2 separate regions of the Homo sapiens genome follow, and region 1 is linked to region 2. Evidence: fine-mapped expression QTL. A gene starts in region 2. The other region holds a variant in brackets. All regions are shown on one strand. Distances are from middle to middle. Region 1 overlaps PTPN18 (protein tyrosine phosphatase non-receptor type 18). Region 2 holds the start of PTPN18 (protein tyrosine phosphatase non-receptor type 18).

Evidence for each region.
Region 1: its variant is fine-mapped to the expression of PTPN18 in whole blood (TOPMed, PIP above 0.99).

What each region holds. Positions count from the first base shown.
Region 1 is chr2:130,374,273-130,379,648 of GRCh38, forward strand. PTPN18 (protein tyrosine phosphatase non-receptor type 18) reads left to right here. Exons shown (of 15, transcript NM_014369.4): 15 at 1-1,133. Among named protein-coding and RNA genes, the nearest start is that of PTPN18, 21 kb to the left of the region's middle. The variant C/T (reference allele first, on the strand shown) is at 2,099.
Region 2 is chr2:130,353,076-130,358,451 of GRCh38, forward strand. It overlaps PTPN18 (protein tyrosine phosphatase non-receptor type 18), which reads left to right and starts at 2,981. Exons shown (of 15, transcript NM_014369.4): 1 at 2,981-3,125. The coding sequence starts at 3,033. RefSeq lists silencers at 2,561-3,230, 3,371-3,420.

The sequences.
Region 1 (5,376 bases), 21 kb after region 2:
CCCAACCAGACTGACCCCTTACTATTCACACAGCCTGCCGAGTAGCTGGGACTACAGGTCTAATTTTTTTTTTTTTTAAGAAATGAGTTTTTGCCATGTTGCCCAGACTGGTCTTGAACTCCCAACCTCAAGCAATCCTCCTGCCTCAGCCTCCCAAAGTGCTGAGATTACAGGTGTGAGCCACCAGGCTCAGCCCCCTAAGATTTGAAACACTTTAAATGGCCCATGGTAGGGTTCCTGCTAGGATAAAACATTAAGCGGCTGTTAAAAGAAATAAAAGGAGGACACGTCTCTGTGCACTGGTGTGGACAAATCTCCAAGTCACTGCAAAATGGAAAAAGTATAAGATGCTCTTTCCCTGAACCTCAAGGGTCCCGCCCCTCTCACTTTCAGGTCTCTGGACCTCTGACTGACACTGTGCCTGCCCAGGTCCCTGTATGCACTGCCACAGTGCCCTGGGCCCCATGTCCACCCCTGTCCTGCCCTTCTCTGGGATAGGGCTGGCCTTCCTCTGCCTCTGCCTGGCTGCATCCATGGTCGATCTCAAGTGCCTTGGCATGAACTCCACTCTCCTGCAGCCTTCAATCAAGGAATGATGGGGATGTGTACATACCCCACCCCACCCCTTGGCAGGGTGATGCTGAGGTGTGGATTTTTAACAGTTCCCAGACTTTCCCAGGAGGCTTGGGTTTGGGTGCCCACAGTGGGAGCTGGTGTGATATCATACCTTCGCCGGCCGCCTTTCCTTCCTGTTCTCTGTGCCCCTACTCCCACTCTAGAGCTGCCCCGTTTCTCTGTTTTCGTGAAAGAGCTGACCCTGTGCTGCCTCCCACTCTCCCAATGCCCCTGCCACTCCTGTGAGCCTGCTGCTGGTGAGGTCGGTGCTGACCTCTGTGTTGCTGGATAATGAGTCATCTATCTCTGGAGGAGAAGAAAGGCAGGTCCTCCACAGCCCTGATAAAATCTCCAAGTCTCCCAGTTTCGGGTCCCTCTCCTGGGATGCAGACCCACTGCCTGCCCAGCTGGTACGATCCACATGCCCTCTTCTTGGGAATAGGGGCATGGGAAAGTGACTAAAGATACTGTTCTGGCTGCTGTGTTCACTGTGAGTAATAAACTGTCCATTTCTCCGATTCAGAGGTCTGTTTTTCCTTTTTTTCTTCCCCAAAGATGGAGTCTTGCTCTGTCGCCCAGGCTGGAGTACAATGTCGCAATCTTGGCTCACTACAACCTCTGTCTCCGCCTCCCAGGTTCAAGCAATTCTTCTGCCTCAGCCTCTCAAGTAGCTGGGATTAAACGCGTGTACCACTATGCCCAGCTAATATTTGTATTTTTAGTAGAGATGGGGTTTCACCACGTTGGCAAGGCTGGTCTCGAACTCCTGACCTCGTGATCTACCTGCCCCTGCCTCACGAAGTGCTGGGATTACTGGCGTGAGTCACTGCTCCCGGCCTTGGTCTGGTGTTTTATACACATGTGCATGTGATGTGGAGCTGTGCAGGCCACCTTGTCAGCATGCGAGGAGGGTCCAGTCTCTGCGCCTTCTTGGTTTCTGACTTCACACCCAGTAGCCTCACTCCTGGCCCAGCATGGCAAGCACAGTTTCCACTCAGGCATTTGCCCTGGTTATTCTCTCTGCCTTGGATACTTTTCTCCTAGATTCTGCCTCTAATATATTTGAACATTTACCTCTTAATATTGTTTCCTGTCTCTCCTGATCAGAATGTAAGCTGCGTGAGGGCAGGAGTTTTTGTTTGGTTTACAGCTACTGTCCCAGCTCCGAGAACAGTGCTGACACTTAGGAAGTGTGCAGGCTGATTTATCTCACACCATTTACTCCGGGTTTCCTCACTTCTAGTAAAGTATGACACCTTGTCTCAAATATTCTTTTCCTCTTTCCAGACCCATGTCTTTGCTCATGTAGATCACTACTTCAGGCTGACATAAAAACCGTTCTCTTGTTAAGAAAGCTCAGCAATGGGAGAGGCAATCCTCCACCCGTCTCTTGCTCTCCTACAGGTCTTTCCTGGAGGTAGTGGGTTGAATGGTGGCCCCCAAAAAGATAGGTCCAAGTCCTAACTTCTAGAACCTGTGAATG[C/T]GACCTTATTTGGAAAAAGGGTCTTTGCAAATGTAATTAAAACACCTGGAGATGAAATCATCCTGTATTTAGGATGGGCCCTAAACCCAATGATGTCTTTATAAGAGAAAAGAGAGAGAGACGCAGAGACAAAGAGAAGAAGGTCATTGAGATGGAGGCAGAGATGGGGATGAAGTGTCTGCAAACCAAGGAATGCCAAAGATTGCCAGCAAACCACCAGGGGCCAGGAGAGAGGCCTGGCCGATTCTCCCTCACAGACAGTAGAGGGAACCACCCTGCTGACCCGTCAGTTTCAGGCTTTGGGACCTCAGAACTGTAAGAGAATAAACATGTTTTGAGCCACACGGTTTATAGTCATTTGTTATGGCAGCCACAGGAAACTCACACACTGGGTATCCAGGAATGCAAGGCCTGGCCGCTCCTGAACTGGGCATCTCAGAGCTGTGTTTGCAATAGGACACTGCAGCAGGTGATGTTTCCTTCTGGATATGCCCTGAGCTCAGGGCTCCTCTTCTGCAGTGCAGCCCACTGGGTGCACAGCATCTGTCTGGGCTCTCACAAACCCCCATGGGATGTGGGGGTCAATGGGACCGTTGCAGGCACCATACTCGTGTTGCTTTGTTTCTGACCCAGTAGGAACAGTGAAGGCTCAGCTGTCAGTTTCCAAGTAGGATCGGATCTGATGATGCCTCCTTTTCACAGGAGTTAGTTACTTCTCCTTTTCTGCTTTCAACATCCCCTGCCTTGACTTCTCTCCTTTGTATGGCATTTGTTTGTCTTAGACCGTGACGTCCTGAGAGAAAACTAGGCCCCATTTGTGGTTAGGTTGGTTTCCAATCTCAGGGGCAGAGAGCTGCTTTACATAATTGATGAAAACTTTGTTTCTGTTTCCTAACTCTCGATTCAGTGCTTTTTTCACATACTCCCAAGCTTACATGTCCTTGCTACCTTCAGAAACAAAACATGGTATTAAAAGTTGCTGCTGGATATTGGGCAGCTGATATCTGACCTCATGAAGCAGAAGGGGAGGGTGAGGAATTGCCACTTGCAATAGGGATCCCCTGAGCTTCCCTGATACTAACATGGTGGGGGGGGGGGCTTGATAAAAAACAAAGGGCAGGCTCAAGAGCTCAGGGCTGCTGCTGAGAGTCTAATGGCTTCTCAGCCCCTGGTAACCTTACCCTCCAGGCCCTACTCCCACCTCCTCTCCTGCCTCCCACCCGGTCAGTGCTCCACCAAACTTCACTGCCTTACTGGAGTGCTCCTCCCTACCCTCTCCTTCGGCCCAGTCTCCTTCATCCCGGGAGACCCAGCTCACATCTCACCTGCCCTGGGGATGTGGGGCCTTCTCCCTCTCCAGAATTTCTCTTCCCTCACACTGCTCCTCAGAGCACTTGGTGTCCACTTCATCACACCCCTGCCCTGGGCCGGCAGGATCCGGGGGCTACAGGCAGGTTCTATGGGTCAGGGATGGGTCTTGCTCCTCTTTGCCACCTAGGTGTTTGGAGCTTCCCCTGCACAGAGCAGTGCTCCGCAAATGCTTGTGGATTTCAGCTCAGTCAGTGTAATTGCTCAGTTGTGTACCAGAGAAATGGTCTTGTTGGAAAGAGCCTGCAGAATGCCAACTGCAGCCTCAGCGAAGGTGATAGAAAATATCACTAAGCAACGATGGCTTATCACTCTTTGTTCAATTATAGCTAAGTTCAGCCCAAACATAAGGTCAATATCTGAATAAACTATGCAGTAAGTGGGAATTGTTTCATTTATTTTATGGCATAGTTATTTTAGAATATACAAAATGGTCGAGGAGACATGAATCCTTAAGAGTGTATGAAAAAGACAAGTGTTTATAAAGCCATACCAGCATCCAATCAATGTCAGAAGCTTTAAGAGCTGAGAAATGTCCAAACATAAAGTGTACTTGAGAAGTGATTTCCATTGGATTCCATTGCTCTCAAACAGACCCTGGCTCTGCAGCCTTACTTTTGAGGATGACTTCTCCAACAGATCTGTCTGCCTGTCTGGGGACAGATGATTGATGAGGTCAGCAAGCTGAACGATGTCACCTCTCCAGCCCCAAGCCTTTTTCAGGTACCAGAAATGGGAATTTTTATATTATCTCATTTAACATGTCTTGGCGAGCAGGACCCCAGGTTTTTAAGTCTTTGGGTTCTCCCATAGGTTTAGCACTGAGTTGTTGATCAATAAACATTTTTTGAATTTAATAAGAAAAGAAAAGCTTGGTGGGAAAGAGCTCTAAAGTTGAACTTTCTCCACCCTGACCTTCAAACCAGTCAAAGAGCCCCACCAGGGTTTGGGATCAGTAGCTCTGCCACTGCCAGCCAATGTTTCAAATTTGCATTGTCATATGTACAGCAGATGCCTCTAAGCAGTCAGCATCCAGAATATCAACAATTACTTGCAATATTTTGGTGAGATAGCCGACTTCCCCAGAAATGTGCCTACTGTATACACACCATCCCCAGTGTTGACATTTGGAAAATGGGAGAATCTCATGATCTCCTTGAACCTGGGACAAATGTGTTTGGTCCCTTCCTCACTGAGGCTGAACAAAGTCCATTCCAACCCTGCAATACAGAAATGTGGCCCAAGTTGCTGAGTGAGTGGGGAGGAAGTAGTCGCTGCATAGGCCGCTGGCAACTACTCATTCAGAGGCCTTTGTTCGTTTGATTTTGCTTAGACAAACCTGACCCCATAGGCACACTCAATTCATCAGCTCATGTGTCCCATGTGCCAGCAACAGAATAGTGTGCCTAAGATGTGTTCTCTAAGTGACTGAACTTTCCTGCTTTTCAGGCAGTCTAGTGATGGGTCAAGAGAGCCTAAGAGCTATTTGAATTGAGGAGGATTTTGATTACACTAGAATAATCAGACTTCAAGAAATTTACCATTAACACCAACTATGTGCAGCTCTCACCATTAGTGTCTGTCTTCCTACACAAGTTTATTGTTAAATTATATTTGTCTTTTTTTTTTTCCTGGAAAGGCAAGTTAGATGTCTAGGGGATTTTATGTCTGATAAATGCCTCTAGTTGGAGATGTATTACAAAGAAATTTAGACTCCCCAGGACTGAGTGGAGTAATTAGTGTATTTCTAGAATGGCTTCACCATTTGCTGGAAGACAGAATATGCTTCATGGCCATCTCCTACCAATTTTTGGCTCCTTCTTTCTCCTCCCCAATGCCCCACCCCTACTCTTTCCAACATCAGCTATTTTTATGTTTTCCCCAAATCTGAAGCTTCTTGATATATGTAG
Region 2 (5,376 bases):
CTAATTTTTTGTACTTTTAATAGAGAACGGGGTTTCACTGTGTTAGCCAGGATGGTCTCTGCCCTTTTTTAACTAAGCAAAAAAGGAAGCTGGAGAAGAACTGTACCCTGGAGATGCCAGCAGTCTCCAAGGAGCTCCCCGCAAGCATCCCAGAGGAAGGGGTGTCTGCCAGGGGTCTCCACTGTAGTTTCTCTTTTCCCCTTTGCAGGCTCAGAGCAGGCTGAACTCACAGCCTTGTGCACCTGTCCCTGTGCATCTTCCTCTACCTTGTCCTCTTGGCTCTGTTGAGCGGCCCATGTAGCCACACTGACTGGTGGGCAGGTGACAGACTGGCACATGGCACGTGGGCTTTGGTACACTTGGGGTCTCTGTAGCAGTGCCAGCAGCTCCCACTGTGCAAGACTGCTGCTGGCAGCGTGAACAGGAGGGCCACCAGCAGCAGTGAGTCTCATTGCAAGAACACAGCTGGCAGTCCTCCGGGAGAGAAAAGCCGGGGTGGGCCAGGGCCTCTGGAAGATGTGGGGTCTTCCCATCCCCCACACCTAGCCTGAGCTGAACAGAGGGCAAGCTAAGAGTTTGGATGTTTGGAGAGACATGAGGAACGGTCAGGTGTCAGGAGGACAGGTGGGTTAAACAACAAGGTGGGGCTTGGAGTGAGGGTGAACACGAGGACAGAAAGACACTCAAGGCAGCTGGAAGTACAAATGGCAGACTACAGCCTCAGCCACTTAATGTTCACAGGCCACAAGGCAGCATCTGGCTAGTCACTCAGATCCTCTAATAGACAAACCACCAAACACACACACACACACACACACACACACACACCCTGGCTGGACAGACTTCCAGATGGACAGAATCCCAGGGAAACACCCAGCTGGACAAACAGACAGATTACTGACAGATGGGTAGACCCTCAGCCAGACATCCAAATAGGCCTGTGGCCAGAGAGACACCTGGGCCCCCCAGCCAGGCAAAGGTCAGAATCCCTCAAGGACAGGTGCCCTCCCCAAAATGGACAGAGACATTACCCCAGAGGAGAGAACACCCCACCCACCTAGTCAACCAGACCTTCAGCTGGACGACATGCCCTCCACCAGTCAGACAGACCTCAGCCTATGAGGACAGGCCCTCAACAGGATCCCTGCTGCTGGACAGAGATCCTCTAGCCCATAAAGACTGCCCTGAATAACCATGTGTGCTCAGGGGCTCACATTTTCCCAGAAAATGTCTTTATTTTCTGAAAGCTTACTGATGCTTCTGTATTCTACCTCCCTGGATCTCCATGGCCATCCACAAACCCTCAATGATTATACTGAGAGTCACTATCATGCACTGAGCAGAGCTCTCAATGACTTCCCAGACTCTTCGGACCCTTCAATTACTAACACTCCAAATCCCAATGGCCCCACAATTACTTTCACTTCTTGTCCCAAGTATCCACTGGCCTCCCAATGACTGTCATTAATATCTACTGACACCCCCCCCCCCATGAACATCCAAGGGACCCCGACTGGCTTCCAATGAATTCCCTATCACCACCATCCTAAACAATTACCTCCCTGAGAATGCTCAAAGATGAAACTGATAAATGATGAACATGAATCTCACAGTGACCCCTGCGGACCCCACGATAAATCAAACAGCCCTAGCTGCTGATCCCCACAGAGCCACTTTGATCGCTCCATCACTTCAGCCAAGGTCAGCAAACGACAGCCTGTAGGCCACACACACACACTAGAATAATTCATGACACATGAACATTACATGAAATTCTGATTTCTTTGTCCATAAATGGTTTCTTTGGGACACAGCCACACTATATTGTCTGCTTTCATGCTGCCACAGCTGAGTTAAGCAGCTGGGGCAGCGATAGCAAAGCCAAAACCACTTCCTACCGGGACCTTTAAGAAAGTGTGCCCTTAAATACTCTGATAGCCCCTAGTGAATTAAATTGACCACCTGACATCATGCCCCTGTTGACCCTTCAGAGACTCAGGCACACATCCAGGCCCCAATGCTACCTTTCAACCCCTCAACGACCTCAAACTGGTGTCCACTGACGCCCCTTCCAGTGACACCCCTCTTAATTCTTCCGACCTCGGCGAGAAGGGGGCTAACCTAGGCCTGTCCTTGAAGAGACCCAGGTGCCAGTCCATTCTCTCCAGCCTCCCCTCGGTGATCCCGGAAGCTGGAACGGCGGCTCTCCTCTGACCTCTGCACACTTTCTGAAGATGGGAGTGTCAGGGCAGGCAAAAAAGAGAAGCTCTTCGTTCCCCAGAACCCACTTCCAGTGCCTCAGTTCTGTTTCCCAGCAGGCTTGTGCAGGTCGAGATGCTCACACAGGACTGACCCTGGTGCCCCAGCGCATCCGGGAAAAAGGAACCACAAATTCCTCGGGAAATACACAGAGAAGATCCCGCTGCCACTTGGCCTTTCCCACGGCGTGGCTGCCCCTCCCCGGCCTCCCTTGGGCCCGGCTGGAGCGCACAGCGCGGGACGCCCCCGACCCGGGGTCCTCTGGCACGAGGGGCAGCCTGATCTCGGCGACCGTCTCCACCCAAGGCTGCTGCCCGCCCCAGCTCGGACTCCGCGCGGCCTGGCTCCCAGGGGACGGGCGGGAGGGCCCGGCGAGACCGCTCGGCCGTCCACCCAGAGCCGGCACCCGGAGGTCGGCCCCTGGGCGCGGATCCCGATCTGAGGGCGGGTCCCAAGCGGCAGGGAGCGAACCTGGGACCGTGCCACCCCCCCACCAGTGGGCGCGGCAGCCGAAAAAAAGGGGAAGCGCCGGCGCTGGACTCTGCTCAGGGCAGCCCGCGAGGACCTAGGGCTCCGGCCACAGCGGCCCGAGCGCCCGGGGTGGGGCTACGCGGGCTCAGAACACGGTGGCTGGGGCGCCCTGCCCGCCGCTGCGCGCTTCCATTGGCTGCCGAGGCAAGGGCGGGGACTCAGTCACCGGCCTCCGCCTCCCGCGGCGTCCACACTCGCCGCGCGCGCGGCGGCCGGGCTGGACCTTGCTGGCCCGCGGCGCCATGAGCCGCAGCCTGGACTCGGCGCGGAGCTTCCTGGAGCGGCTGGAAGCGCGGGGCGGCCGGGAGGGGGCAGTCCTCGCCGGCGAGTTCAGCGTGAGTGGCACACGGGGTCCGCGAGCGGCGCGCCCCGGCCCTGGCCCTGCGTACGCCTGTCCTCCGCGCACGGCGGGCTCTGCCTTTCTGTCTCGGTGTCCCCGGTGTCTCCCCGCCTCGGGGGGTCTCTCCGTGTTTCTCTCCCCAGCACTTCTCTGTCGCTCTTGCTGTCTCCGTCTTCACTCTCTGCCCCCCGGCCCCGGAGCGCGACGTCCACGGCCAGGCCGGGACGGACCGTGCACACCCTCGTTCCCGGTGTCCTCGTCGCGCTCCCGGAACAACCTGGCTGCGGGCGGGACAGGTGGGGCGGGCGCCGCAGGGGAGGGCGGGCGGCCCTGCTGCGCTGGACAGCCCCGGCCCCGCCGCTTCTGGCGACCTGACTGTCCCCTGTGACCACAGGAAGGAAGGGGCTGCAGCAGGGCGAAGAGGAACACGGAGGCTGTGGCGTGGTGAGGGTGTGAACGCCGGGCTCGAATCCGCGTCCGGGCCCGAATCCGCTTCCCGTCCCGAATCCGCGTCCCGGCCATCCGCGTGTGGTCCAGGCGGTCTACCTGGCCCCTCTGACCTCGGCTTCTCCCTTGGTGAAATGGGGACATGAATGACCAAACTGGTCTAAGGATTAAATGATGTGGGTGAAAAGCACTTAGTACATATTGGGCGCACACTTCGTAGGGGCGTTCGTCACTGCCTATAAAGATTCTAAACGTGGGCCAGGTGCGGTGGCTCACACCTGTAATCCCAGCACTTTGGGAGGCCGAGGTGGGAGGATCGCTTGAGCTCAGGAGTTCGAGACCAGCCTGGGCAACACAGCGAAACCCCGTCTCTACTAAAAATACAAAAATCAACTGGGCATGGGCGCATGCCTGTAATCCCAGCTACTAGGGAGCAGAGACAGGGGACTCGCTTGAACCTGGGAGGCAGAGGTTGCAGTGAGCTGAGATGGTTCCACTGCACAGCTGAGATGGTGCCACTGCACTCCAGCCTGGGCCACAGAGTGAGATCCCATCTCAAACAAAACAAAACCAAACAAAAAATCTAAACGTTACAATACAGGTAGTGCAAGCCCAGCATTAGGAAGGCTCACGCAGAATGCTAGGCACTGTACATTACAGTTGATGACGTGTTTAAAGTGTAATCGCTTATGTACCAGACATAGAAACATACCATACAAACGCATAAACTGATATATGGTGACATGTATCAAGTTTAGAAATATGACAAATATATAAAAGTATTATAAATGACCGTTTATACAATAAACATTGCATAACTGCATAAAACAATACAACAAATGAATATAACAAAGATTATAATTTATAAAATGACCAAAGTTATTTGATAAATTCATAAGTAGATATAAAATATGTAACAGATGGCCGGGCACGGTGGCTCACGCCTATAATCCCAGCACTTTGGGAGGCCGAGGCGGGCGGATCACGAGGTCAGGAGATCCACACCATCCTGGCTAACACGGTGAAACCCCGTCTCTACTAAACACACAAAAAATTAGCTGGGCGTGGTGGCGGGCGCCTGTAGTCCCAGCTACTCGGGTGGCTGAGGCAGGAGAATGGCGTGAACCCGGGAGGCGGAGCTTGCAGTGAGCCGAGATCGCGCCACTGCAGTCCAGCCTGGGCAACAGAGCGAGACTCCATCTCAAAAAAAAAAAAAAAAAAAGTAACAGATAATTATAAACCTAAGTAATTTACACACATGTAGAAACATTGTATATAAGAAACTAAGAAATGCATAATAAATGTAAAATATATAATTATACAATATAAGAATGTGTGTAACAAATGTAAACATAATACCCATGTGATATATGACATCATGCGACTGGGTGGGTTCTGAACCGTGTACAGTGCGGAGGGCCTCACATGCGGAAGGCTGGGTGGCGAGGGCACCCCTGCTCCCCAAGCCTGCCTCCCGCATGTGCAGGAATCACTGCGCTCTTCTAGGTGTTCCCACTACACAAGGGCATCATGAGGGCTTAAATGACCCAATGGACACAAGTAAAGCACTTAGAATAGTGGCTGGCACACAGTGGTGGCATGGGTGTTACTTATTATCATTGAGATTACGAATACCTGACGATGATGGTAATACACGATTCACTAATTATTATTATAATCTCCCAGTAACACAGTGCCTATAGTATCTTGTACATAATATGTTATCCATTATAATGCCTATGCATTCATTGTACATTGTCTTATATGTTTAGCTACATAGCCCATAATATATTTCATTA